Linked DNA regions of Homo sapiens. The protein of the gene in region 2 purifies or fractionates together with the protein of the main gene of each other region. This does not show direct contact. Each region holds a gene or a part of one and is shown on either strand. Other genes may lie near its edges. The genes, in order: CHERP, DHX15, CUL2 and GCFC2.

What was found.
Region 1: the proteins of DHX15 (region 2) and CHERP purify together in Homo sapiens (co-immunoprecipitation; 3 studies listed by BioGRID and IntAct, with this or other methods). This does not show direct contact.
Region 3: the proteins of DHX15 (region 2) and CUL2 purify together in Homo sapiens (affinity purification with mass spectrometry; 2 studies listed by BioGRID and IntAct, with this or other methods). This does not show direct contact.
Region 4: the proteins of DHX15 (region 2) and GCFC2 purify together in Homo sapiens (co-immunoprecipitation; 3 studies listed by BioGRID and IntAct, with this or other methods). This does not show direct contact.

Annotation. Positions count from the first base shown.
Region 1 is NC_000019.10:16,539,413-16,547,241, forward strand, and holds the start of CHERP (calcium homeostasis endoplasmic reticulum protein), read right to left. Parts: upstream 3,026-7,829; 5' UTR 2,967-3,025; coding exon 2,942-2,966; intron 2,632-2,941; coding exon 2,458-2,631; intron 1-2,457. UniProt on the Homo sapiens protein: Involved in calcium homeostasis, growth and proliferation.
Region 2 is NC_000004.12:24,574,554-24,581,579, forward strand, and holds part of DHX15 (ATP-dependent RNA helicase DHX15), read right to left. Parts: intron 2,126-7,026; coding exon 1,690-2,125; intron 1-1,689.
Region 3 is NC_000010.11:35,010,321-35,017,346, forward strand, and holds part of CUL2 (cullin-2), read right to left. Parts: intron 6,075-7,026; coding exon 5,872-6,074; intron 3,481-5,871; coding exon 3,379-3,480; intron 1,645-3,378; coding exon 1,528-1,644; intron 123-1,527; coding exon 1-122.
Region 4 is NC_000002.12:75,665,916-75,672,941, forward strand, and holds part of GCFC2 (intron Large complex component GCFC2), read right to left. Parts: exon of another isoform or gene 6,401-7,026; intron 6,102-6,400; coding exon 6,035-6,101; intron 4,370-6,034; coding exon 4,223-4,369; intron 139-4,222; coding exon 14-138; intron 1-13.

The DNA.
Region 1 (7,829 bases), on a different chromosome or scaffold from region 2:
CTGGGATTACAGGCGTGAGCCACCGCGCCCGGCCTAGCAACGGTTTTAAACTTGGTGTGCTGGGGCTAAGGAAGGATCGCTCTAGAAACACATAAGCACATACAATATTTTGCTTACGATTTCAGGCAGCTGATCTCTCTCCACCCCACCCCCGCATCTCAAACCTAAATAGGCATCAGAAAAACCCCTGGATTGAGTGAAAAAACCCAAACTTTTCCCCTGGCAGTTAACACTCCAGGTCAAACTCTTCCCTCATACAAGCACATTCTTTTATTAAATAGATTCTCTACTATGTCACCCAGGCTGGAGTGCAGTGGCTATTTACAGGCGTGAGGCCACTACTGATCGGCACAGGAGTTTCGACCTGCTCCATTTCTGACCTGGGCCAGTTCACCACCCCTTAGACAGTCGAGTGGTCCCCAGCTCCCAGGGGGTCACCATACTGACACTGAACTTACTGCACACACTCAATCGACACAGCGCACTACAGCCCTGAACTCCCGGGCTCAAGCAACCCTCCAGCCTCAGCCTCTTGAGTAGCTGGGGGTACGGTGTGTGCCACTGTGCCTGGCAATACACACATAAACTCTCTCTCTGTTTCTTGTTCAAGAAACTGCCCCTTTGCAATGTTCTACTCTCTCAGCCTTTCAAGTTTTTGTTGTTGTTGTTGTTAGATGGAGTTTCGCTGTCTCCCAGGCTAGAGTGCAGTGGCACGATCTTGGCTCACTGCAACCTCCACCTCCCAGGTTCAAGCGATTCTCCTGCCTCAGCCTCCCGGGTAGCTGGGACTACAGGTGCCCACCACCATGCCTGGCTAATTTTTTTTGTATTTTTAGTAGAGATGGGGTTTCACCATGTTGGCCAGGCTGGTCTCGAACTCCTGACCTCAAGTGATCCGCCTGACTCAGCCTCCTAAAGTGCTGGGATTACAGGCACAAGCCACTGGGCCTGGCCTCCTTTCAAGCTGCTTTTTTTTTTTAGATGGAGTCTCATTCTGTCACCCAGGCTGGAGCGCAATGGTGTGGTCTCGGCTCAATGCAACCTCCAGCTCCCAGGTTCAAGCGATTCTTCTGCCTCAGCCTCTCCAGTAGCTGGGACTACAGGTGTGTGCCACCACACCTGACTAAGTTTTGTAATTTTAGTAGAGATAGGGTTTCACTATGTTAGCCAGGCTGTTCTCAGACTCCTAACCTCAAGTGATCTGCCCGCTTCAGCCTCCCAAAGTGCTGGGATTACAGGCGTCAGCCACTACGCCTGGCCTCCTTTCAAGCCTTTTCTTTTTCTTTCTTTCTTTTTTTTTTTTGAGATGGAGTCTTACTCTGTCACTCAGACTGCAGTGCAATGGCGTGGTCTTGGCTTACCGCAACCTCCACCTCCCGGGTTCAAGCGATTCTCCCGCCTCAGCCTCCCAAGTAGCTGGGACTACAGGCGCGGGCCACCACACCCGGCTAATTTTTGTATTTTTCGTAGAAACAGGGTTTCACTATGTTGGCCAGGCTGGTCTCAGACTCCTAACCTCAAGTGATCTGCCCGCCTTGGACTCCCAAAGTGCTGTGATTACAGTATGAGCCACTGCAACAGGCCTCCTTTCAAGCTGTTTAATCGAACACCAACTGTGTGTTATGTATTAAGGGACAATGACCTTGTACCTTAATACAAGACGAGCGTGTAGTCCCCTGAACTACACGCTCGCCGAAGCCAAACAGACCTTGTTTGGGTCATTGTACCTTAATACATAACACACAATTGGCGTTCGATCAAACAGCGGACAACCACCTCTCAATGTCCATCTACCTGGCAAACTCCTAGTTATTCATTTAAACAATCTAGAGACGGGGTTGGGTACTGAACGTGACAGATGTGATACCTGCCCTGAGCAGCCGCACCACCTGGTGACTATCCATTATTCAAAGGCCAGCTCTGCTTCCTAACTTTAAACTTCTTTAGAGCAGGACTGGAATCCTGTTGCCTAAATGAACGAACATTGATAAACACTTGCCAATAACTAAAACTCAGAGGGATAATTCTTTTTGATTTCTGCTGCAGGCATCTGAAATGCACAAAACCTTGCTGGACCCACAGGGAGACGGCAAAGGGGGCTGGACAGTGCCTGTCCCATGGACTCCCATCCGGCCTCTATCACTTCCTCCCTAGAAAACACTAAAACAATCACGCTACTCCTGCTAATCTCCGTCATCAGTCTGCAAAACAACAGCAAAATCCCTGATCCAGAGCCCAGGGGGGAGGATCGAAAACCTCGTTGTTCTCCATTACAGTGGCACCCAGCAGCCGCTCTGTGCAGGGCCGTGGGAACAGCGGAACAGGGATCGTGTGGACCGAGCTGCTCCACTTCAAAGAATAAACGACCCGAAAGAAAGAGGTTTGTGGCAGAGCCCGGACTGGAATCCGAGAAAGGAAGCGCTCGATGGGACGGCCTGAGTGCCGGAGGGGACTCACGCTGCTGCTGCTCCAGCGCCAGCTTGCACTTGTAGTAACTGTAGAATTCGCCTCCGAAAAGAAACGAGAATTTGGGGTTGTCCTTCTGCTTCTCCATAGTCATCTTCTCAAACTCGGGCCCATTGCGAGCCACGAACTGGGCGAGCTTGTCGATGACATTTCGAAGCTCCTGGTCTGGAGGACGGAGAAAAGGCCACGCGGGGCGTCAGCGAGGACCGCCCAAAGCCGGGGGACTCGGCGCCCCAGCCCCCGTCCGCCTTGCCGGGGACCCCAAGGGGGTGGGCCCCGAAGAGGCCGCCCTTGTACGGGTCCCGATAGGGGCCACACGCTCGCCGGGAATGCGGGGACCCACGGGAGAGGCCGCAGGCGAAGCCGCGAGGCCGAGCCCCGCCCCCTCCCAGACCCGGGGACTCCGGGAGGCGGGGCCGGCCAATAGGAGGTTCCGGGGAGAGAGAAACGGTCTCTCGGCCGGTTTGGGTCTCACCATCGGGGGGCAGCGGCATCTCCATGGCTCCGGCCGCGGGGAACGTCCTCCGGCGCCACACGATCGACCACCAGCGCCGTCTGCGGAAGCCGGCCGGAAGTGGCGCGAGGGAGCCGTTTACGGCGGGCTTCTAGGGCCGCTTCCGCCCGCCACTTACGGCCGTCGCTGGGAAACTCCGGAAGTGAGAGCGGGAGGCAGGCGGGAAGAAGCCGCGCGATGCCTGGCGCGCGGGAGGGGCTAGCGACGCGCACGCGCAGAAGTTTCCTGACACTTTCGCAGAGTGGGTCCCCGTCGCGCGGCGCCGCGGAAAGGCTGGAACGGCGCGGGTGGGTGTTAGTCGAGACCGGGGGGCGCGGGGCGTGCCCCTTGGTCGGCGTCGCAGCCCGATGGGCTGGCTGGTTGCTACCTCCGGGCGACCAGGGGCCTGGGGACTTCGTGCCTGGGCCAGGGTCTCTTTCCTTTCGCGGGCACAGTGAGGAGACTGCGAGGTGAGGTGCGTCCGGGTGGATCCCGGGCTGCGGCGACTGTCACATTCTCCCCGGCCAGACCGGAGGTGGAGCAGAACTGGGGGCGACGAGCTTGACTGGGATTGCAGCTGGACGTATTTAGGTTCAAAACATCCTCCTCCTGGCTTTCTTCCGCTCCACTCTTTGGTCAGGAAGACTGGGGCGGGGTACCCCCCAACCCATGCCCTCAAATTGCTGGCCTAGAGGGCACAGCGCCTTTCTAAAAGCTGCAGTTGGGTTGCCTCTAAAATAATGAAGCTAACCCTTGCTAATTGTGGGGAAAAGATAGCCAGAAGCAGCAAATTTCTGCTGTGGACGTCCGATATAAACTGATCCTCTTGAGATGGTTAATGCTTAGTTGGCTATACCTGCCCCCCGCCCCCGCCGCTTTTTTTTCCTTTATCCGTTTTTTTTTTTCTTTTTTCTTGAGACAAGGTCTTGCTCTGTGGCCCACGCTGGAGTGCAGTGTCATGATCATAGCTCACTAGCCCTGAACTCCTGTGCTCAAGTAATCCTCCCGCCTCGGCCTCCCAAAGTGCTAGGATTATAGGCATGAGCTACTTTACCCAGCCTGTTTTTTTCTGTGCAAATAAATGCACATGTATTTTAGATTAGTTTCATTTTTATTGTTAACAGCATTTTTCCACCAGATGCTTATGGATTGACAACTCTACATCAAGTGTTGCTGTAGGCTAGGAATCAACAAAACTTTTTGTATAAAAGGGACAGAAAGCAAATATTTTAGACTCTGCAGGTCAGGAGGCAAGATCAAGGATTTTTTTTTTTCTAAATGTCCTCTAGTTCATATTTTCTCATGAAGATCGAGGATCTTAATTGTTTGGTTTTTTTTTTTTTTTGAGACACAGTCTTGCTCTCTCTCGCCCAAGCTGGAGTGCAGTGGTGTGATCTCGGTTCACTGCAACCTCTGCCTCCCGTGCTCAAGCAATTCTCCTGCCTCAGCCTCCAGGGGAGCTGGGACTACAGGTGCGCACCACCACGCCCGGCTAATTTTTGCATTTTTAGTAGAGATGGGGTTTCACCAGGTTGGCCATGCTGGTCTTGAACTCCTGACCTCACATGATCTGCCTGCCTTGGCCTCCCAGACTGCTGGGATTACAGGTGTGAGCCACCCTACCCAGCCTTATTTAGGTATTTCTATAACCAGAAAGAAAAGTTCATAAAATTTTTGTTGGTGAAAATCAAAATATGATAACTGAGTAGTTTCTTAAATACAAGTTGCTACAGTTTGAATGTTTGTTCCTAATCCCCAGTGAAACAGTATTAAGAGGTGGAGCCTTTAAGAGGTGATTGGGTTATGAGGTCGTGCCATTCATGTGTTAATGGATAAATAGGTTATCATGGGAGTGGGACTGGTTTGGAGCTTGCAGTGAGCTGAGATTGCACCACTGCACTCCAGCCTGGGCGACAGAGTGAGACTCCATCTCAAAAAAAAAAAATAAATAAAATAAATAAAATAAAATAAAAAGAGGAAGAAAGGCCAGGCTCAGTGGCTCATGCCTGTAATTCCAGCACCTTGGGAGGCCAAGGCACGCAGATCACCTGAGGTCAGGAGTTCGAGACCAGCCTGGCCAACATGGAGAAATCCCATCTCTACTAAAAATACAAAAATTAGCCGGGCATGGTGGCGGATGCCTGTAATCCCATCTACTTGGGAGGCTGAGGCACGAGAATCACTTGGACCCAGAAGGCAAAGGTTGAGGTGGAGGTTACAGTGAGCCAAAGTCGTGCCACTGCACTCCAGCCTGGGCAACAGAGCAGGACTCCGTTTCAAAAAAAAAAGGAAGAGAGACCTGAGCTTGCACACAGCCTGCTAGCCATGTGATGCCCTGTGCTACCTCAAGACTCTGCAGAGTCCCCACCAGCAAGAAGGCCCTTGATTTTGGATATCTCAGCCTCCAGAACTGTAAGAAATAAATTTCTCTTCTTTAAAAATTGCCCAGTCTCAGGTGTTCTTTTATAGCGATGCAAAATGGACTAAGACCCAAGTCTATTCATAAGAGTGGAATTCTTTTGGGGGATAACATTTCACTTAATTGGGGCTCCCAGTTGTATTTCCTGTCGTCAATTGATGGTACATGTTCACCTTTGAAAAACCTTCCTGGCTCACAAAAACAGGCGGCCAGTTGGATGTGGTTTATAGATACGGTCATGCACAACTCAGATCTCAGCTCTGCTCTCAGGGGACTCAGTCTATGGCGGGGAAGAGTCCCAAAATCAGTAAACAAATATATCATCTCAAAGGTGTTATTAAGAAGAGGATGCTGAGACTATGATACAAGGGAGGGTGAGGCCCAGGCTGATAGGGTTGTCAGGAAAGGCTCTCGAGGTGAGGTCTGCACTATGATCTGAACAAGGGGCCAGCTCTAAACACCCTAAACAGGCAGAGAGAACAGTGTGGGATCATACTGTTTATTTAAAAAATATTTTTTATTTTTTATTTTTTTTGAGATGGAGTTTCACTCTTGTTGCCCAGGCTGGAGTGCAATGGCGTGATCGCGGCTCACCACAGCCTCCGCCTCCCGGGTTCAAGCAATTCTCCTGCTTCAGCCTCTCGAGTAGCTGGGATTACAGGCATGCGACACCACACCCGGCTAGTTTTTTATTTTTAGTAGAGATGGGGTTTCTGCCTGTTGGTCAGACTGGCCTCAAACTCCCAACCTCAGGTGATCCACCCGCCTCAGCTTCCCAAAGTGCTGGGATTACAGGCATGAGCCACCGTGCCTGGCCCTAAATTTTTTATATATTTTTTTGAGACGGAGTCCTGTCTGTTGCCCAGCCTAGAGTGCTGTGGTTCAATCTCGGCTCACTGCACCTTCCGCCTCCCACACTCAAGTGATTCTCCTGCCTCAGCCTCCTAAGTAGATGGGATTACAGGCGCCTGCCATCACACCCAGCTAATCTTTGTATTTTTAGTAAAAACGGGGTTTCACCATGTTGGCCAGGCTGGTCTTGAACTCCTGACCTCAACTGATTTGCCTGCCCTGGCTTCCTAAAGTGCAGGGATTACAGGCATGAGCCACCGTGCCCAGCCCATACTATTTGAAGAACAGTCAGTAATCCAGAGTGTGGGCACTTTTCATGCCAGGTAAAATCTACATGAAGAAGTTTTTTTTGTTTTTTTTGTTTTTTTTTTTTTTGAGACAGAGTCTTGCTCTGTCACCCAGGCTGGAGTGCAGTGGTGTGATCTCTGCTCACTGCAACTTCTGCCTCTGGGGTTCAAGCAATTCTGCCTCAGCCTCCCGAGTAGCTGGGACTACAGGTGCACACCACACCCAGCTAATTTTTTTTTTTTTCTGAGGAGTCTCACTCTGTTGCCCAGACCGGAGTCCAGTGGTGCAGTCTCTGCTCACTGCAAGCTCCACCTCCCGGGTTCACACCATTCTCCTGCCTCAGCCTCCCGAGTAGCTGGGACTACAGGCACCCGCCACCGCGCCCGGCTAATTTTTTGTATTTTTAGTAGAGACGGGGTTTCACCGTGTTAGCCAGGATGGTCTCAATCTCCTGACCTCGTGATCCGCCCACCTCGGCCTCCCAAAGTGCTGGGATTACAGGCGTGAGCCACTGCGCCCGGCCTACCCCCAGCTAATTTTTGTATTTTTAGTAGAGATGGTTTCACCATGTTGGCCAGGCTGGTCTAAAACTCCTGACCTCAGGTGATCCACCTGCCTCGGCCTCCCAAAGTGCTGGGATTACAGGTGTGAGCCACCGTGCCCGGCTACATCAAGGAGTTTTAACTTGGGATCTCCAATGGATAGATTTCAGAGAACCATGAACAAAATTGGTAGCAAAATAAATGCCTTTTTGAGGGTTGAAGATACACAGCGTTTACAGGATTCTTAATAGGCTCCTCAATCAGAACAGGTTAATGAATCTGTATTGTCATTTTTTTTTTTTTTTAGACAGAGTCTCACTCTGTTGCCTAGGCTGGAGTGCAGTAGCATGATCTCGGCTCACTGCAACCTCCGCCTCCCAAGTTCAAGAGATTCTCCTGCCTCAGCCTCCTGAGTAGCTGGGATTATAGGCATGTGCCATGACACCCAGCTAATTTTTGTATTTTTAGTAGAGACAGGGTTTCACCATGCTGGCCAGGCTGGTCTTGAACTCCTGACCTCGTGATCCACCCGCCTCGGCCTCCTAAAGTGTTGGCATGACAGACGTGAGCTGCTGCGCCCGGGCGATGTTGTGATTTTTGAGGCTGCATAGGATGCCATGGTGTGGACTCACCACAATTTACTGAAGTGAGACTCTAGTCTCCTGGCTTGGTTCCATTTTTAGGCCACTGTTAAAAGTGTCTTAAGTGTATATAGGGTTGGGCGTGGAGGTTCACGCCTGTAATCCCAGGACTTTTGGAGGCCAAGGCG
Region 2 (7,026 bases):
ACCACAGAATAGCAGTATGAAATATAAAACTTTAGATATAAAGACAAAAGGTACAAAGTTTTAAATATTGAGCCCACCAAAATCCATAATCCATGTAACCCAGGACAATCCACTAAACCTAAGTTTCTCATAAACTTAAACCTCATTTTGCTCATCTGTAAAGTGGTGATGAATATCTTCCTGCAGGGTTATAGAAAAACGTAAATGAGCTAATACATGTAAAGTATACAGTGTCTGGCTTTACCCAAATATCAATTAAATAGTAAGTTCAGAGTTACAGTCTTTCTTGTAGTTTGAAAATTCTTAAAATTTCCGTAAGGTGATTTTTGAATACCCTAACATCAATTCTAAGTTTTCCTTCATTAAAAAAGAAAAATTGGCAAGGCTAAGGCAGGAGGATTGCTTTAGCTCAGGAGTTCAAAACCTCAACTCTACAAAAATTTTATTTAAAAATTAGCCAGGCACTGGTGGCATATGCCTGTGATCCCAGCTACTTGGGAGGCTGAGGCAGGAGGATCGCTTCAGCTCAGGAGGTTGACGCTGTGTTCATACCACTGCACTCCAGCATGGGTGAAAGACTGTCTCAACAACAACACAAAAATTAAAAAAAAAAAAAAGAAAAGAAAAGAAGAATGGTACTAAGGCTCAGTCTATAATAAAAGCTTCCTATTTTGGTTGCTACAGTACCTTCAAAATGTCTCCATGCACATGTAACTTTAGAAAAAGATAAATTGTGTATGCGGTATGTTCAATCTCTGCATGGTAAGACAGGTAATTCACTTCAATACTTTCCTGAATTTTTCAAAGTTTCTACAATGATCAGGGACTGCTACTTTTGAAACCAGAAATTTTTAATTGATGGTTCAGGCTTAAGTGTATAAAGACAGTTACTTCTCACCCACAGCAAGAAAATGCAAATTAAAAAGTACATTAGAATGCAATTTTTCACCTATTGGATTTGTAAAAATTCACGTTTTAATAGTTTCCCACGTGTTCTCCTACATGCTCATGGAAAGGTAAATTGATACGCTCCCTCTGGAAGGCTATCCAGCTTTCTGTATCACAATTACAAATGATCTTCTGACCCAGCAATTTCTGCTTCCTACAGAAACACTTGACCCATGCAAAACAACCATGGGAAACAGTCTAAATGTCTATCAACAGGGGTCTAGTTAATAATAGCCCATCCATGTTTAAAAAATATCCTAGCTATATTACAAATAACACACTAGTAACAGTGTTTAGTTCTATGGGAGGGAGGACGACTAGATGGACAAAAGTCACCGGTATAGACTTTATATTACTTTGGCATTTCATTTTTTGCATGGTTCAAAATACCATATTAAATACAAACGACAAAAATCTACCCCAGTGATTTCTCCACCCAAGTACCAGAAAACAAACTGTGGGTCCCTAAATCTGTACTGTCCGGGAGTCAAAATACCTCTGCCATACATAAGGTAACAAAATTTGAAAAGCGAGCACCACTATTTTCCCCTAGATTCAGGGGAGAGGTATTCTCTATAGGATTTCCACTCTGAAATTCAGAGTGCCAATTAAACATCAAATCAGCTATTCTTCAAGATGTTCTATAGGACAGACAAGGGAAATGACCACCAGAATCAAATATGCAACATTTGGTAAACTTAAACATAAATGAAATATGTACCATGGTATACAATAACTCACCTGTGTTGTTTTACCAGACCCAGTCTCACCAACCAGTACAAAGGACTGATGTCTAACCAGAATATCTGTAAACCTATCCTTGTATTCCCAAACAGGGAGCTGAAGACGTTTCTTTAGAATATCATAGTATCGAGGAGTATGGGGTAAGTTGGTGAACGGATTAATGCACTGTGGAAGTGACGTGTGACCTGCATGTCCGGCATGCGTTGAATGAGCAGAATGTGTTGAATGCGTTGAATGTGCTGAGTGGGTTGAGTGAGCTGAATGGGAAGCTTTCAAAGGTGGTAATCCAGCACTGATAAGCATAGCATTTGTTGAAGCTCGCAACTCCTTCTCCTTTTCTTTCTCCCTCTCTCGCTCTCTATCTCCTCTATCACGTTCTCGGTCTCGATCTTTAGACCGATCTTCACGATCCCGGTCTCGATCTCGATCCTTCCTAAAAACAAAAATTTAGAATTCAGATTCTGAATTTTATGCAGAATGTTCACGGTAGCGTTATAATCACAAAGAGAGTAAATGTCCAACGTTCAAATGAATAAAAAGTCCAATGGATTATGTAACTATCAGAAATAATAAAAAATACCCTACAATCAAGGGTTTCCCATTCTCCACCACAAACATCTTTCCCTTCCTTGCTGATGCCCCACCTTCCTTAACTTTTAACATTAGGTGAGGTAACACAAGAACTCAGTCTGCTGCAAGTAAAACCCCTCCTACTTAGACAACAGAAATCAGATACTGAGGGTAGGATGAAGAAAGGATAGGTCCAAATTGAGTAAAAGAAGATGGCATCTCAATCTTTCTCAAATTCTCCTTCAATTTGTGAAGAGGTATTTTGTGCACTAAAAGTATATTCAGAAGTTAGCACAAACACTGCTACTGGAGATAAAGACAACTCCACCTCACATCATTACAGTCAACAGTGGTGGGTTTTGCTCAATACTTTTATAATCCACTTCTAATAAATTACTTTAATATTCCTTTCTTTGCCATAGGACGATGTTCGGTTGTAATGCAAAGTGAAAAGAGCATAGTACAATGTTATACCTGTCAATATCTCAACTAATACAAATACGAATTACAGGACTGCAGAATTTGTTTTCTTAGTTATACTTTCCAGCACTTTCCCAATTTTGTTCAGTAAATGTATATTGCTTTATTAAAAAAACTGAAATTAAAACTTTTATTCCTTCTTGCTTGTTTACTCTTGCATTTTAACCTAAACAGCAACAGCAAAACACTGAAAGCACTCTATAAATCTATGTACCTTGGTCTACCATAAAATGAAACATAGCCAAATTAAAAATAAGCTTTGCTAAACACTATTAAGTTGTTTAACATGTTAAAATTATGCAGGTAGCCACTCTATTAAACCTGGGTCAATTTTAAGTAGTCAATGCTGGTATCTACTTCCAGTTACTAGAGATTGACCTTAATAAGTCATTTTAAAAGTATCTATGCTAAGAACTTCACAAGCAGAATGGCTGCAGGTTGTTCATATGCGTTGTGGCTGAAAGCAGCCTCTGGGAGACTGGTGGTGGGAATAAAATAAAATAATCTATGCTTGTTCATTTTACTAATCCAGTTTACTTCAGACCAAGTCCATCAGCAGAGAAATTTGCCTCAAGATCTTTAAACCCAGACTTGAAATAATGAGACATGACGGAGCTATGACACAAGCCCCGAAACATGTCATTGTTCCTTACCCACAATACACAAAAGTACAAATTCCCTGTGCTCCAAGTGCAGTTGTGTGACATGTACAAATTTACTCAAAAAGGGGAAAAGCCATATATATGCATATATAAACATGAAAAGTGATTTTCCCCTCTTCCATCCCAATGTTCACCTTCTACAAAAATCACAGAGCATACAAGCCAGAACTGTATGAAGCCTCTCATTTCACCTGGCATAAACAGAAAGAAAATCAATGGGAAAGAAAAGTCAAAGGATAACTTAATAAACATAAAATGAAGTCTCACAATTCAATACTTGAGAGTCTGGACCTATCTTCTGAAATATGCCATCAACTATCTTTGCTTCTCCTGCTTCTGGCCTAAGGTGACTGTTAATTAAGTGTTTACATTGCTCCAAAATGCCAACGAGGTGTAGTTTATAATAAGAGTACACAGAAATGTGCCCAGCAAAGTAAGAAGCACTGTACTCACAAATGGTTCAAATACTTGACACCTTAAAGATCATGGATCATACAGCTAGAAAAGAACTCTTAAAGAACATCTGGTCTGAACAAAAAGGATTCATGTTTCTAGTATTCACTCAACCATGGGGGAAGGAGGAGATGACAAAAAATATAATTGAAACAACTTCCTTTTTTTTGAGATAGGATCTTGCTCCATTACCCGGGTTGGAGTGCAGTGGCTCACTGGATCATGGCTCACTGCAATATCAAACTTCTGGGTTCAAGTGGTCCTCTCACCTCAGCCTCCCGAGTAACTGGGACTACAGGCATGCACCACCACGCCTCGCTAATTTCTTATTTTTGTAGAGATAAGGGTCTCACCATGTTGCCCAGGATGGTTTTCAACTCCTGGGATCAAGCAATCTCTTGCTTCAGCCTCCCAACGTGCTGGGATTACCGATGAGCTACCATGCCCAGCCTAGTTTAATGATTTCTATACTTCTAGCATAGTACCAGGCAATTAAGACATGGTCAAGAGTTACAAAATTTGGGGGAAGAGAGGTGACAAAGTAAATCATGTATTATATATTGCCTTAGTTTGTTAAAGTAATACCTATACTAACAAAGATTTTTTCAGGGGCCCACTTCATCAGATGCTTCATTACCAAACCAAACAAAGGATGTATAAAATACATTCTAAAGATAAAAGGTTAGCTGCTGATCAAGCAATGGCGACAGCTGTGGTATTAAGATAAAAGGAATGCTGGAATCACCATTGCAAGACACTGCCTCAATTTACTGATCTGCAAAATGAAGAGCATTTTCAGATACTTTTAGTCTCAGATTAAAGTAAGAAAACAGGGAGGATGCAGGAGGCAAATTCAGACACCTGGAAATGTTGCTTATGGCTCAAACTACCTTCCTTCGATGAGAGAGGGAGTACAAATGAAAGGTGAGTAAAAGGGGAAAATCAAACCCTCCACTTCATAAATATTTGTCAACTATTGTGCACATGCGTGTTTTCTTTTTTAAAAGATACTTTTTATTATAAAGGAGTTTTGTTCTTAAAAGTTTACTAGTTGAAGTATAAGGGTTTTTAAAAACTGGTATCAAGTCAGTGCTTCAGACACAGCCACACCACGAGCAGGGAGGGAGGTATGACATGACACAGTTGTTGAACATACTGCTCTGTACTGTGTCTCAGTTCAATCTTGGCTCAAGACTTAAGCCAACTATAGGATCACAGTTATTTCTTCCCTCACCTATAAGATGTGGCTATCAATATGTTTTGTAGAGTATAGATAGGATTAAATGAGTTAATATATGTGATGTGCTTTAAGTGTTGTCTGGCACATTGCAAATGCCCAATATCGGTTGTTGTTGTTATTATTACTATTATTTTGAGACGGAGTCTTGCTCTGTCACCAGGCTGGAGTGCAGTGGTGCAATCTCAGCTCACTGCAACCTCTGCCTCCCTGTTTCAAGCGATTCTCCTGCCTCAGCCTCCAGAGTAGCTGGGACTACAGGCACATGCTGCCACACCCAGTTAATTTTTGTATTTTTAGTAGAGACGAGGTTTCACCATGTTGGCCAGGATGGTTTCAATCTCTTGACCTCATGATCTGACTGCCTCGGCCTCCCAAAGTGCTGGGATTACTGGCATGAGCCACCGCGCCCCACCAATATTGGTTATTATTAAAGATCTTTTTAAGTTCTAATACCATGTTAAAATTCTACATGGAGGGCAAGACCTAGTGACTCACGCATGTAATCCCAGTGCTTTGGGAGGCCCAAGTGGGAGGATCACCAGAGGCCAAAAGTTTGAGACCAGCCTGAGCAATACAGTGAGACCCCATCTCTACAAAAAAATTTTAAACTTAGCTAGGTGGGGTGGCACGCCTGTAGTCCCAGCTACCTGGGAGGCTGAGACGGGAAGATCACTTGAGCCCTGGAATTTGAGACTGCAGTGAGCCATGATCACACCAGTGCACTCCAGCCTGGGAAACAGAGGAAGACCCTGTCTCTAAAAAATAAAAAAATTCTACATGGAATAATAACAGGCACTGAAGTACTGCTAAGGAAGACATTAACTGGTCATCAAAATCATGATATTTTAAATAAGCATTGCTTTTTTTTTTTTTTTTTAAAGACAGTCTACCTCTGTTACCCAGGCTGGAGTGTAGTGGTGCAATCTCGACTCACTGCAACCTCTGCCTCCCAGGTTCAAGCAATTCTCCTGCCTCAGCCTCCGGAGTAAGTAGCTGGGATTACAGCAGTGCGCCACCATGCCCAGTGTATTTTTGTATTTTTAACAGAGACAAAAATAGGTTTTATTACCTTGGCCAGGCTGGTCTTGAACTCCTGACCTCAGGTGATCCATTCGCCTAGGCCTCCCAAAGTGCTGTGATTACAGGTGTGAGCCATCACACCCGGCAATAAGCACTGCTTTTTATCCGTCAATCTTATTTCCAGGAACCTCTCAAGGATGTGTGCAAATACGTATGTATAAGGATGTTCATCAAACTTCTCATTTATAAAATAGCAACAAGTGGAAAACTACCTAAATATCAATGAACAGGATATTGGTTAAATAAGTGATGTCATACCTTTACAACTGGAGTACTATGGCAGTCAATCTATTTATTTTTTATTATTTTTTTTTTTTTGAGATGGAGGCTCGCTCTGTTGCCCAGGCTGGAGTGCAGTGGCACAATCTCGGCTCACTGCAAGCTCCGCCTCCCGGGTTCATACCATTCTTCCTCAGCCTCCCAGAGTAGCTGGGACTACAGGTGCCCGCCACCACACCCGGCTAATTTTTTGTATTTTTAGTAGAGACAGGGTTTCACCGTGTTAGCCAGGATGGTCTTGATCTCCTGACCTCGTGATCCACCCGCCTCGGCCTCCCAAAGTGCTGGGATTACAGGCGTGAGCCATTGCGCCCGGCCTATGGCAGCCAATTTAAAAGCGTAATGTGTACCTACAGTTAATGACATTTCTGAGTGGAAAAAAAAATCAAAGTACAAAATAACACGCGTTGATCCCACTGATATTAAATTTTATAGTTCATATTTTTGAGTCAATATGCAGAGATCTTAGAAAATGTTCACCAAAAACTGTTATCCAAAGATGGAGATGAAGATTTTAGGGAATGCCTTCTTTAAACCTTTGAGTATAAACATTTCTTATGTTCCCTGTGG
Region 3 (7,026 bases), on a different chromosome or scaffold from region 2:
TAGCTGTATTCATCTGCCGACGCCTGGCTGCGTTCTATGTATTGTTTGTCTATCAGAACTTCAATACACTTCTTAATCATGCTGATACTGGGATTAAACCTAGCTCTTGACTGGCTAATCACCTGTGGAAGAGATGTGGAAGTCAAACTACTGCCAGTTCTTCAGCTATTAAGTAATGACTTTTAACCAATCAGTTTAAAGTGCCTCAAATGTACTGAGGTTTCAACAAATGGGCCAAATTAAGTATGAAAATAGGAACTACAATGTGGAAAATGGATACAGCAAAATCTAATAATGATACATAATTAAGTGAAACAATAAACTAATTAACCTAAGTACTCACACACAACCCCAAGCTTCTATTTAACTCAACTCTCAGCTCTTAGTTCAAACACTTTCTCAAGAAAGTTTTCCCCAGCAGCCCCTAGGCCAGGATATTTAAATACATTCTCATAGTACTGTATACGTTTCCTTCAGTGCATGCTAATGTAATTTTACATTTATTTGCATATCATTTCAATAGTGTATTTCTTCCCCCATTAAACTGTGAACTCCAAAAAAGCCTGCCATATCTTCAGCTGCTCTGTGCTATATCCCAGGGACCAGCCCAGCTGTCTATCACATGGTAGGCTCAGATAGTTATGGAATGAATGAATATCTGATGGGTCAATTTCCTTCAATAACTGGACAGAAGACTCAATGAATCAGCAAGTTTTAGACCTCTAAAATAAAGCCAAAGCAAATATGAATTTATTATTATCATTTGAGATAGCATCTCACTGTGTCACACAGGCTCAATCCCTGGGCTCAAGCAATCCTCCCGCCTCAGCCTCCCAAGTAGTTGGTACTACAAGTGTGCCGCCACAACTGGCTAATTTTTTAATTTTTTAATTTTTTTTTTTTTTTTTTTTTAGGTGAGATGGGGTCTCCCTGTGTTGCCCAGGCTGGTCTGAAACTCCTGGACTCAAGTGATCCTCCTGTCTTGGCCTAACAAGACATTCAGATTACAGGTGTCCACTGGGCATGGTGGCTCACACCTGTAACCCCAGCACTTTTGGAGGCCGAGGCAGGTGGATCACCTGAGGTCAGGAGTTCGAGACCAGCCTGGCCAACATGGTGAAACCCTGTCTCTACGAAAAATACAAAAATTAGCCAAGTATGGTGGTGCACGCCTGTATTCCCAACTACTCGGGAGGCTGAGGCAGGAGACTCACTTGAACCTGGGAGGCAGAGGTTGCAGTGAGCCAAGATCACGCCACTGTACTCCAGCCTGGGCGACAGAGCAAGACTCTGTCTCAACAACAACAACAAAAAGGATTACAGGCATGAGCCACTGTGCCCAGCCTGCAAATCTGAATTTAATACTGAAATTGTGAGTGAGTACGATTCTGATTAAGTATGAAACATTTCTTTATGCTATCTGAGGATCAGGTTATTTCTGTATCCTCTTTAAGAAGAAAGAGACTGAATCTGTACAATGACAATGCCCTCTACCCTAAGAAGCCCTGAGGACTGCCCTCCTTTTACCTCTTGAATAAGGGCATTGTGCCGAAGCACTTTTCGTGCTTTCATGATACGAACTATAGCAGCTTGGAGATACATTTTCCGGTCCTCATCAACTGCACTTCTAGTCTGCTCCATTTCCTGTTTTACAGAAGAAAAGAAAAAAGACCCAACAAGACATTAAGTCACTGAACTTGTTTTCAATTCATTTTATCAGTGAGTGCAAATACTTTTTTTTTTTTTTTTTTGAGACAGGGTTTCACTCTGTCGTCCTGGCTGGAGTTCAGTGACTCGCTCTCAGCTCACCGCAACCTCCATCTCCTGGGTTCATGTGATTCTCATGCCTCAGACTCCTGAGCAGCTGGGATTACAGGTATGCACCACAATATTGAGCAAATTATATAGTTATGTTGTGCCAATATCACATAACCACTGCTAAAACATCTACAATTTCTAGGGTTAAAGTTGAAAGATTAGAAAAAAATTTACATTATTGTAAACTGTACTGTTAAGGTAAAGAGGCAATAAAGGAGGACACAGCAATAATTTGCAAGATCATTTTCTTATCAGTGATTACAGAATCTTTCATGACGCTTTTAGATGGAGTTGTGTCAACTGCAGTAATTAGCTCCAAATGCATACTGGATCAGGCTTCAAAGGGAAGAGCTGTGAAGTGGCATTTTATGTGGCTCAAGCAGAGAAGCCAGGAGAGGGGGCCTATCTCCACGGAGCTCAAGAAACACAGAAGCAAGGCATAGAAGCAGACCATGCCACATTAAGAGGATCTCCTCACAGCGTTTCAAAGACAAAATACAATCTATATATTGCAAATTATTATTTATTAGCCTGGAGGAAAATGGAATCTTGACCATTTTAGGTTTCAAAGTAAATGGCAGTTAATATTTGTCTCCCCCCATCGGGAATTAAGTTTCTGGAGAGGGTCTAACATCTTATATTATCTTCACATCCTGCATCAGCCCAAGGACTGCACACCGGAGGCAATCAGGAAGCATAAGTGATAGAAACAGTCTATCCCAGACCAAAGCAACAATCACTGCTGAGTTAAAATAATGAAGAGCAGAAGTCCCCTCCTCACACTGGCCTGTCAGTACCTCACTCCACACCCACTAGATCACAATCTGCATTTGAACAAGATGCCCAGGTGGCTCATTTGCATATGAAAGTTTAAGAAGCATTTTCTACTGACAAATTTTCTTTGAAAGAAATGAGCTGTAGGCCAGGCGCGGTGGTTCACACCTGTAATCCCAGCACTTTGGCAGGCTGAGGCGGGCGGATCACGATGTCAGGAGATCGAGACCACCCTGGCTAACACAGTGAAACCCCGTCTATACTAAAAGTACAAAAAACAAAATTAGCCAGGCATAGTGGTGGGCGCCTGTAGTCCCAGCTACTCAGGAGGCTGAGGCAGGAGAATGGCGTGAACCCGGGAGGCAGAGCTTGCAGTGAGCCGAGATCACACCACTGCACTCCAGCCTGGGCGAGAGAGCAAGACTCCGTCTCAAAAAAAAAAAAAAAAATGAACTGGAGAACTTTCCCTTATTTTACAAATGAAAAATATGAAATTTTATTACTTCTCAATGTGGGAATTTTCGGAGAGAATGCATAGTTACACATTCTAATGGTTTAAGAGCAAATACAACAAAACCATACCCTTTTCCTTAGAAAAAACTAAAATACAAGTAGAGATTTCTGTTTGACTGTAAGGTTAATAAATGCCAACAACAAACCAGAAAAGACATATCCCATTATTAATTTTGCTGTGCAAAGTTTTGCACAATCTCAATGTAAACACTTGTAAAGTCCAATGCTTAAATGTTTCCCCCTCAAAAAAAACTTGACATTAAAAGCACTTACTTGTGGTGTGTCTTTCTGCATTGATGTAGTAATTTTAAATTTTGTTCTTTTACTGCTAAAGTTCATATTTAATGAAAACGAAGATTCTGCATCAATATCTTCCTACATTTAAAAATAAAACATTTATATTTATAAAAACCAAAATCTTTAAATAAGAGTTTGCTGCAAGCAATTCTGCTAAATTAATGACCAAGCAAAAAAGCCTCCACTCTCATAACTTTTATATTATAGATTACCAAATTTAAGAGAAAAATAATTCTTTTGTTCAAACAAACAGGAAAAAACCCAATTATTTTCTACTTTTACATCTGCCAGAATCTTAAGCAGTTTATGTTTGGGAATAAGCTATTTTCTGGTCCTACTATTCTATATACACTACTTTTTGATAAAATAAGAGTCAAGCTCATTGCCTAGAGTTTGACATTTTAATTTTTATGAAACACCAAAGTGCGTAACTTTTCCATCACCCCATTTTGAAAAAGCAACCACATTTTTTTTTACAAATGCCGCAGTAACAAAATACCCACTGTAAATGGCCTGATGACAAGAGAAAGCTGTGCCTCCAGTAGCACACAGCATCAATTTGCTGTGACCTGGGGTGATGGTGAAAACATTTATTTCAATCCATGTTTTATTCACTCTTCAAGAAGCAAGTGGCCTTTGCTCAGGGGAAAACTGTTTAGGCAATTTTTAGAATAACAACTTCTGTATCAGGCTTAAGAAAGCCACTGATATCATAGAGTGGAATTTCTCTGGCAGCAGAATCAAAAGGCACTTGGAAGATGAAATAATTCTCAATAATAATCTAAGACATTCTGCTAAGGAATGGACAGATTCATAATTAAATTTAAAGGCCAGGCATGGTGGCTCACGTCTGTAATCCCACCACTTTGGGAGGCTGAGGTGGGCAGATTACTTGAGCTCAGGAGTTTGAGACCAGCCTGGCCAACAAAGCAAAACCCGGTCTCTACTAAAAATTAAAAAATTAGCCTGGCATAGTGGCTTACACCTGTGGTCCCAGCTACTTGGAAGGCTGAGGCAGGATTATCACTTGAGCCCAGGAGGTGGGGATTGCAGTGAGCTGAGATGGCACCACTGCACTCCAACCTGGGTGGCACAGCAAGATCTCATCTCAAAAATAAATAAACATAAAATAAAATTTAAAGTGCAAACAAGGAATCTATGTTTACTTTGTCAATTTCTGGGCAGCAAAAATAGCATGTTTTAGAAAAAAATATAAAACCTTTAAGAATTTACTAGCCTAAAATTAGAAACCATAATTAATTAACCTTAAGAAATCCCTATTTTGGCCAGGCACAGTGGCTCACGCCTGTAATCCCAGAACTTTGGGAAAGACAGGTGGATCACCTGAGGTCAGGAGTTCGAGACCAGCCTGACCAGCCTGGCCAACATTGTGAAACCCTATCTCTACTAAAAATACAAAATTAGCTGGGCATGGTGGCACGTGCCTGTAGTCCCAGCTACTCAGGAGGCTGAGACAGGAGAATCATTTGAACCCAGGAGGTGGAGGTTGCAGTGAGCCAAGATCACGCCATTGCACTCCACCCTGGGCAACAAGAGTGGAACTCCGTCTCAAAAAAAAAAAAAAAAAATCCATATTTTGCTAAGATTCTGATGCCAGATAAATCATTTCTCAAAATTATGAAAACATTGATTTGAATTTCAGAATATGCCTTTTACAGTTGTTCAGTTATAGACTATAAAATGTCATCATAATCCTAGGGATGTCAGCAAAATGAATTAATGAGAGAAATAAACTGTAGGCTATTAACTTTACAAAAATAAAAACAAAACATTATTTATAGGAATTTTTTCTTATAAGCACAATAATTTGAAGGAGATATAATCCCACCTCTGTTGCATTTTTAACTATTTAAACATCTAGGATATACTATGACAACAAAACAGCAAAATCTTGTAACTAGAAAAAAAGTTACAGAGAAAAAAAGTAATATACTAATGGCTTGTTATTCTTGTGACAGATATTAAAAATATATGGTGGTTAAAAACAGATGACAGTTAATTGAGTGCTGACATTAAGAACACTTGGAATGGAGTTACACATATTAAATATGTGTACAAACAGACATCAACAGGCTGTCATTTCCTGTTATAGAACCATGAAATTAAGCACATTTATAAAACCAAAAACCTGGAAAGTCTTTAAAGGCTAGTTTCAAAATCTCAATTAATCAAAATCTTCCAGATGGCAATTCTTTTACAATTATTCAATAAGCTGTAACAGTATAGGACAAATAAAATCAAACTATAAACGGCACATGGCACCAACTCACACAGCATGCTCTGTGATGCCTTAACGCTCGCAGCTCTATGGAGCGTACAGTAACGTAGTGAATACAAGTGCTTTCCAGAGCACAATAACAATTACAGCCTTATTTTAAAACTGCAAACATCTCATGAAAAAGCTTTAATGCTGATGATGCTTAAATTCTTTGGAATATTACTACATACCTTTTCTGAATCATGGTTAATCATTTTCACATCAAGTAATGATTTGATTGTTTTTGTCAGTTCCTTTTCATTCATCTGAGTGCTGTCCTGAAGCTCTTTATAACTGACAGTTTCACTGTTGTTAAAGGCAAGAAGAACTGCCATTTGGTATGTTGTAACCATGGCTACATATGGTTTGCCCAAATAGTTCATTTTAACTTCACCTACAATTAAAACAAAAACTGACAGTGAATTGACCATTCAAAGAAACATTTCAAATTTACTTTATTTCAGACATTTTCTTCGGAAAGAGTGAACCAATAATTTTATTAAATTGTTGTAAAGCCACTGCTGTTAACAAGGTAGTCATTTTGTTTCTTGGGGAGGTGAGGATGGAAGTCTATTAGTTTTGAGTATATGGTATAAATCAGTAAAACTATCATAACTTCACCAGTAGGTTAAAACAGTCTTTAAGGCCAGGCGCAGCGGCTCACGCCTGTAATCCCAGCACTGTGGGAGGCCGAGGCAGACAGATCACTTTAGGTCAGGAGCTCGAGACCAGCCTGGTCAACATAGTAAAACCCCATCTTTACTAAAAGTACAAAAATTAGCCAGGCATGGTGGCTCATGCTTGTAATCCTAGCCACTTGGGAGGCTGAGGCAGGAAAATCACTTGAACCTGGGAGGCGGAGGTTGCAGCAAGCCAAGATCACACCACTGCACTCCAGCACGGGTGACAGAGCGAGACTCTGTCTCAAAAAAAAAAAAAAAACAAAAAAAAAAGTCTTTAAATATTAATAGAAATGCTAAGACTTAGGCAGAAAAAGAAAAGAACAAAAAACCCAAACAATAAAAGGAGGTGGGAGAAGGAGAAATGGACAGACAAAGGGCAAAGTGATATCAGCAACAGCCTCAAGTGCTGTCGATAGCTGGGCTCTCCCAGGTAAGGTTCAAGCCTCCTGGGAGGTCCACAGCCACATGGAAAATGCTTTTGAGGCCCTGTCTAAGCTGTAATTTCTGCCAAAATTAATGCTATTATGTCTCATAAACAACATTTTTCTTTCCAGTAACTTCCTAGAGGCAAACAGGTATGAAAGGAGAGACAAACAGGCAGACCCATTCTCTTGCTGAAAGTTGATAGCAAAAGAATCTGAATGTTTTCATAAAAATGTTTAA
Region 4 (7,026 bases), on a different chromosome or scaffold from region 2:
AAATATGCATTACCTGAATTCACTTCTAGATAATTTATGTGCAGACTGCAATAAAAACTGAATGAAGTTTTCTAGCTGTGGAATAGATGTCCTCATGGCAGAATTTTCAAACCATTTTTCTGGTAGACATGCTGCTACCTGTTAATCAAAACACATGGCTGGTTTACAATGACAGTTATCTAAGAAATCTTGCTAATATAATCTCATAGTGATACTGTAAGCTGAGTATCATTCTCCCCATTTTATAGTTTATGGTTAAATAAAAATTTCTAAAGATTTCCCTTTGTGTCCAAGGCTACATATATTTTGGAATTCATTCTTTAATGCTAAGAACTTAAAATACACTACTCTCTATGAACACTCCCTGGTAGTACTAGTAATTCTTTCTATATTCTTGTATTTGTGAGTCATTAAATCTGTACAAAACATAATTTACAACTAAAAACCAAAAATGTCTAGACACAAAATATTTGGTCAATACAACTCTAAAATACATACATTCACTATTATTTTATAAAGAAATTGGATGGCCTAGCATATGATCTATATGGAGTTAAGGAACCAAATGGGTGATTCTAAGATACAAAGAATGAAAGATAAATTAATTATGTTTTTAATCTTCTATCAGTGTAATACATTGCCTTAATTGTAAAGCAGCAGAATGAATCAATGTAGGTGCATTCAATTTTTCTTTTGGAAATGGAAATTACATTTTATCATTGTCATCCTAAGAGTAATACAAGATTTTGAGAAAAGTTTTGGTAAAAACAGAAAAATGTTAGAAAAAATTTAAAAAGTAAAAAAAAAAAAAACTTCCTCATAGCAGAAACAAGGGTAAAGAAGGGAGGGAAAAGGGGAGAAAGGAAAAAAACTTGATATTGTTCCCGGAGAGAACAAAGTATGGCTGCCTGCTCTTGAGGTCCGAAAACGAGATGCAGACAATTGGGAAAGAAGGGAGGTCAGAGTAACTCACCAGACCAACTCAAAGTTCTAAGCTTTTTTCTAGTGCTTGTATATATTTAAAGCTCCGTGCTACGTGTGGGATTGTAACTGCAAGTGGGAGTGTTGCATTCAATCTCTATCTCATCTTTAGCTAGGGACTAGGGTCTGGAAAGCTTTCTCGAGAGTCTTGGAAAGTTTCTTAATCTTAAGACAGAATGAGGTGTATGTGTAAGAATGCTTTTATTATTCCATCAGATTTCAGGGGCTGAGAAAACCCAGGCAGGTTCTTAATGGGTTGGTTTTTGCATTCCAGTTTTGTACTCAGGCACCAGTTTCTCCAGTTTTTTAATGTTTAGCTTACACTTTCATTAACGTTATAGTAACGGGTTCTTGGAAACTGATCGTTCTGTTTGCTAATGGAAACCTGGCCTGTCACAATATCACACTATTCAAGGAAATTCCTAGATAATCATACAGATTATGCTACATTTGGTAACATCAAGATCAATATAGAAAGCAGAGAGTTGGGGAAAAAATTAAAATGCACCCTATATATTATACAGTATATTAAATAAACGTTCTGGAATGCGCTCTTTCTAAGATTGGTCAGCATTTAAAACATGGTTGAGGAAAAAGAATTCTACTCCTTAATCACCTGTTTCAACTATTCAGGAAAAATACTGACACACTGACTGCCTAAGGCAGAAGATCCTACAAGTTTTGTTATGTAAACTCTTTTTAAAAGTTTTAAAACCACCCTTTACTATTGAATGTCATTTGCACTTGTTTTCCCCTTGTTTTGTATTACAAGTCTCAGTAAAATTCTCATTTAACCATGTAGCTTTTGCGTTAATGATCCCAGCACTAAAAGTCGATTTTCTTGGCCTGGTTTTCTAACCATATGCTGTGGAAAGAATGCTGTGTAAATATATTTCCTCTTCTCCACTTCATAATAGACCCTATGGTCAAAGGGGACTAAACTAAACCTGAACAACATTACATGGATGATGATTTAAATTTTTAATATATAATGCTTAAAACTATGATATAAAAACTATAGCCAGAACAATCATGGTTGGCTACTAATTGATATATAGTTTTATGGCAGACTAGGTTTCCATTAGCAACCAGATGAATCAATTTCCACTAACCCTTTTCTATAATTTTGATGAATGTGTAAGTTAAACATTAAAGAGCTAGAGAAACTGGTGCCTGAGTACAAGAACTGGAATGCGAAAACAAACCCATTAAGACCCTGCCTGAGTTTTCCCAGATCCTAAAGTCTGATCAAATAATGAAAGCATTCTTACACATACTCTTTGTACCAGGGCCCACTTAAGATTAAAAAACTTTCCAAGACTTTAGAGAAAGCTTTACAGACCCCAGACGGTAGTTAGATTGTACAGACTGAATGAAACACTCTCACTTGTAGATGCACTCTCCCATGTAGCATGGAGCTTAGAATGCATATAAGTGCTAAAGAAAACAAAACAAAACAAAACAAAACAAAACAAAAAACCAAATTGTAACTTTCAGTTGGTCTGGTGAGTTGCTACAACCTTTTCCCTGTAACTGGTTGCAAAAATAAGCTCCTTTCTTTCCCAGTCTGTCTGCATCTTGTTATTGGGCTGCAAGAACAAGCAGATGGACCCTATTCTATCTGGGAACAGTTTAGTGTGTATGTGTTTTTAATTATAAAATAATTATTTTCCCATATTCTTAAAAATTCTTCAAAAACATAACTTTTGTGAACCCAAAAGTATCTGAGACAGGTTCTGAGATTTATTTTCCTTTCACATTTTTATCTTATGAGAAGACCATCATGTTTTTAGGGATATGTAGGTGTTTCCAACTATTTTCTATTATAAATAATGCTATAACAATATTCTTTGTACTTAAAATCTATATGTGCATCTCTAATTTTTGACTTAACTTACTTTGGCTAAGTCAAAGAATATAAGCTTTAAAAGTTTTGTATCCATCATGCCAAAATACTCTCCAAAAGAGCTGTATCCCTCCTTCCCCCAGTGCAGGAGACTGTTTTCCAGAACCACTGCACTGCATACAGTGAATGGTGCCCCTGCAATGATGGAACTGTTGTTTTCCTGTGTTTATAACACTGGAAATCGTAAGTAAAATAACAACGCCAAAAAATGTTTGCCAACACAACTGGTCAAGTAAATATCCTTCCTATAAATAATTTCCATTTCTCTGATTATTAGTACTATTAATTATTTTCACATATTTTAAGGTTAGTTTTACATATCCTTTTAGGTGACTTTACTGTTGCACGTGTTTTGGCCATTTTTAGTCAGAACATTTGAATTATTTACTAAATTGTAAAGAGCTTTTTTATTTAATGTGAATATTAACACTTGTTACATGTTAACAACTTTTTATTTCCTAGATTCTTAACTTTTCTAACTTTCTATTATACAAAATTTCAAACACAAACAGCAGTAGAAAGAATAGTATAATGAGCCCAATGAACACATTCCCCAGTTTTAATAATAATCAATTAATCCCAATACCTTTTTGATCCACTAAAGTTTTATATTTTTTCAAATTTATTACTTTTTCTCATAATTTCTTCTTTTGCCTTTAAGTTTAGAAGGAACTCCCTCACTCTCAAATATAGTCATTTACCATCTTAGTATATTTTATAGTTTCATTTTTACATTTTTTAAAATTTTACCTGAAATTTTTTTGGTGTATAGTGAGAGGTGAGGACTTAACATTCTTTTTGTAAACAGCCAGCCATCTAGCATCATTTATTAAGTAATTTTTCCTTTCCCTACTGGGGATATTTCAAACCAGTATACTCTTTCTTAAATACAGAAGAGCGGCTCTGCATTTTAGCTTTGTTAAATTCATTTGTCAATTTTTTTTTTTGAGATGGAGTTTTGCTCTTGTCACCCAGGCTGGAGTGCAATGGCGGCTCACTGCAACGTCTGCCTCCTGGGTTCAGGCGATTCTTCTGCCTCAGCCACCCAAGTAGCTGGGATTACAGGTGTTAGCCACCGCACCTGGCTAATTTTTGTATCTTTAGTAGAGACGGAGTTTCACCATGTTGGTGAGGCTGGTCTCAAACTCCTGACCTCACGCAATCCGCCTGCCTCAGCCTCCCAAAGTGCTGGGATTACAGGCATGAGCCACTGTGCCTGGCCCATTTGTCTATATATGAGTACCACACATTTAATTATTTTGCTAAATAATAGATTTTAATAGCTAAATTTTTTAGAAATGATAAAATTAGAATCAGTCTTCCTTCACAACTTACCTGGTTGCACTTTTTAACCACATCTGGCCCAGGTGTGGCATTGAGAAGTGCTATAATAAGGTAACGATTTAGCAGCTTCCCTAGTCCTAGTTCTTGCAAGGTGTCATCTGTAAGGAGTCCATTCCAAAGAAGAATATTGCGGAAGAGCTAAAATAAAATATCAAGTAAATATGTACCTTTTCTCCAAAGAGAAACTGTAATAGTCTCTAACAAACATGAAGAGTTGGTCAAACTAAAATTCTCACTACAATTAGCCCTGTTGGAACTGTCAATTTTAGAATACAATATCTCTGAATAAATACTTGATTCTTTCCAAACTCCATGTATTTGCTCATCTTATTTTCATTTTCTAGGATAACCATCCCCAAATCTATCTCAAATAACTTCACTAGAGCCTTTCCAGATCAATAATCTTCCTTCCCAATCCATTTTCTCTCAAAGCCGGGGGCCATCAAGTATAAGACCACAGGACCACGTGATTCATAAAGAACTACTGTCAAAACTAGGGCCGCCATTACCAACATGTGACCTTGAGAAGGCAATCAACGCTGAGAGCTTCATTCCTCTGATACATAAAGATTTATAATCACCTTTGAGTTTGAAGATAACTTGGATTAAGTAACCATAATAAATTCTAATAAAATATTGGTTGTCCTTTCCCTCTACTAAATTCAGATCTTTCTGTGAATTTTAAGGTGTTTCTTTTTTTGCAGTACTATATTCATTACTCTGAGTGCTGAACTACATGCTGTTTTACTAAAATGTAATGCTTTTTCACATTTTATCTCATTGTTGATGTTGTTCCCTCTTCCCAGAAAGCCTTTTCCCTGATTCAACCACATGACAAATATTAATTCACACTATTAAAACTACTCTTGGTGAGGTCACCTATATCCTTCTAATTGTCAAATCCAATAAACAGTGTTTCAGTCTTTCTCTTAATACTCTTTGGTGGCATTTAACACTCTTTTCTTCATTCTTGAAAATCTTTCATTTAGCTTCCTTGAGGCCATTCTCTTGTGATCATCCTAAGGCTCATAATTGATTCTACAGATTCCCTGAAGCCTCCATGTTCTCCTCTTCTGTTAGTATTTCCCGAGGTTCTGTCCTTGGCCTACTTCTCATGCTTCATCCAGTCTCCTTACGCAGCTTGCCATTCATGACCATGGCTCCAAATATTACCTACAGGTAGTGGACTCCCAAATCTCTAGCTCAGATCTGTCTCCTGAAATTCAGACTTATGTATCCAACCACCTCCTAGACCTCTGTATCTCTATTTGTCCCACATATATCTTCATTATGTACAAAATAGATCTTATCTTCCCTTGATCAGTTATCGACTCCTTTCAATGCTTCCTCCCAAACATTGTTTGAACCTTCTTCTCCTTCTCATCCCTACTGCCACTGACTTAGCAATAATTTTAAGGCCAGGGGTTAGCCAACTATATAGCTTGTGGGTTAAATCCATCCTGTTGCCTGTTTTTATAGGGTCCGTGAGCTAAGAATGGTTTTAACACTTTTCAAGGACGTTTTAAAACTGTCTTTAAACAAAATATTTTGTACCATGAGGAAATTATATGACATTCAAATTTCAGTGTTCATAAGTTTTATTCAAACAGCCATGTTCATTTGTTTATGTACTATGACTGTTTTTGTGCTACAGCGGCAGAGTTGAGTAATTCGACAGAGACCATGTGACCACAAAGCCTAAAATACTATCTAATTCTTATAGAAGAAGTTTGTTGTTCTTTGTTCTATAGTAAACAGGATTTTTACAAAAATTGCCTTTTCATTTTTGCAGTTTTTGCTCACCTTTAGGCCTGACCAGAACTGTCTTTCTTGGAACTTTGAATGAGGTGATGTTTTGTTTTCTACAGCACTAATTAGAAACAAACGAAAGAGAAGAGAAAATGCAAAGAACTATTAGTCTTTCAGAACCAGAGTTTAAGATCAGACTTTCTTTTAAACCAACCAAACTAAGCCTTAATGGAATATAAATAGAGATTGTTTATTTTATTTTATAAATAAAATATATATTTATTTATAAAATATATATTTATATATTTATAAATATGTTTATAAAATATATATTTATATATTTATAAATATGTTTATAAAATATATATTTATATATTTATAAATATGTTTATAAAATATATATTTATATATTTATAAATATGTTTATAAAATATATATTTATATATTTATAAATATGTTTATAAAATATATATTTATAAACAAATAACTAATATATCACATTCATACATCTGAACCATGTGAATGCATTATCTAAAACATTATAAACAAAGTTTACCAAGGCAGAATTTTTACATGTAGACATCTCATGATTCAAAATGAATCAGAAAGCTTTGAGGTTCCTTTCTTCCCCCTCCATAAAGCTCCTCCATCCTGTCACTACTCACTGGATTGCTACAGTTCATGCATCATTATAACTGATGGCTTCTTAGCAAAGTTATGATCATACATCAAATACTCGTTTTATAATTTAAAGTGACTGCAGAATTTACAGGTGCAGTTTCTCGTTCCTCAGCATTGTGCTTCCTCTGTGCTAGGCCCTGTTGTGTTCTGAGCATTCTCTTCATCTCCCTAATATCCTGTGAGGTAGGCACTAATTTTATCCTTATTTTATAGATGAGAAAACAAGTGCATAAAAATACCTACTAACAGTGGACGTGTGCTCTTTACCACTCTATATCACCTGCTATGTTCCTAGGATATATGTAAAACCAAAACCAAAACCAACCAAACAAAATTCATCTAAGCGCCAAGATAAAGCACGGCTT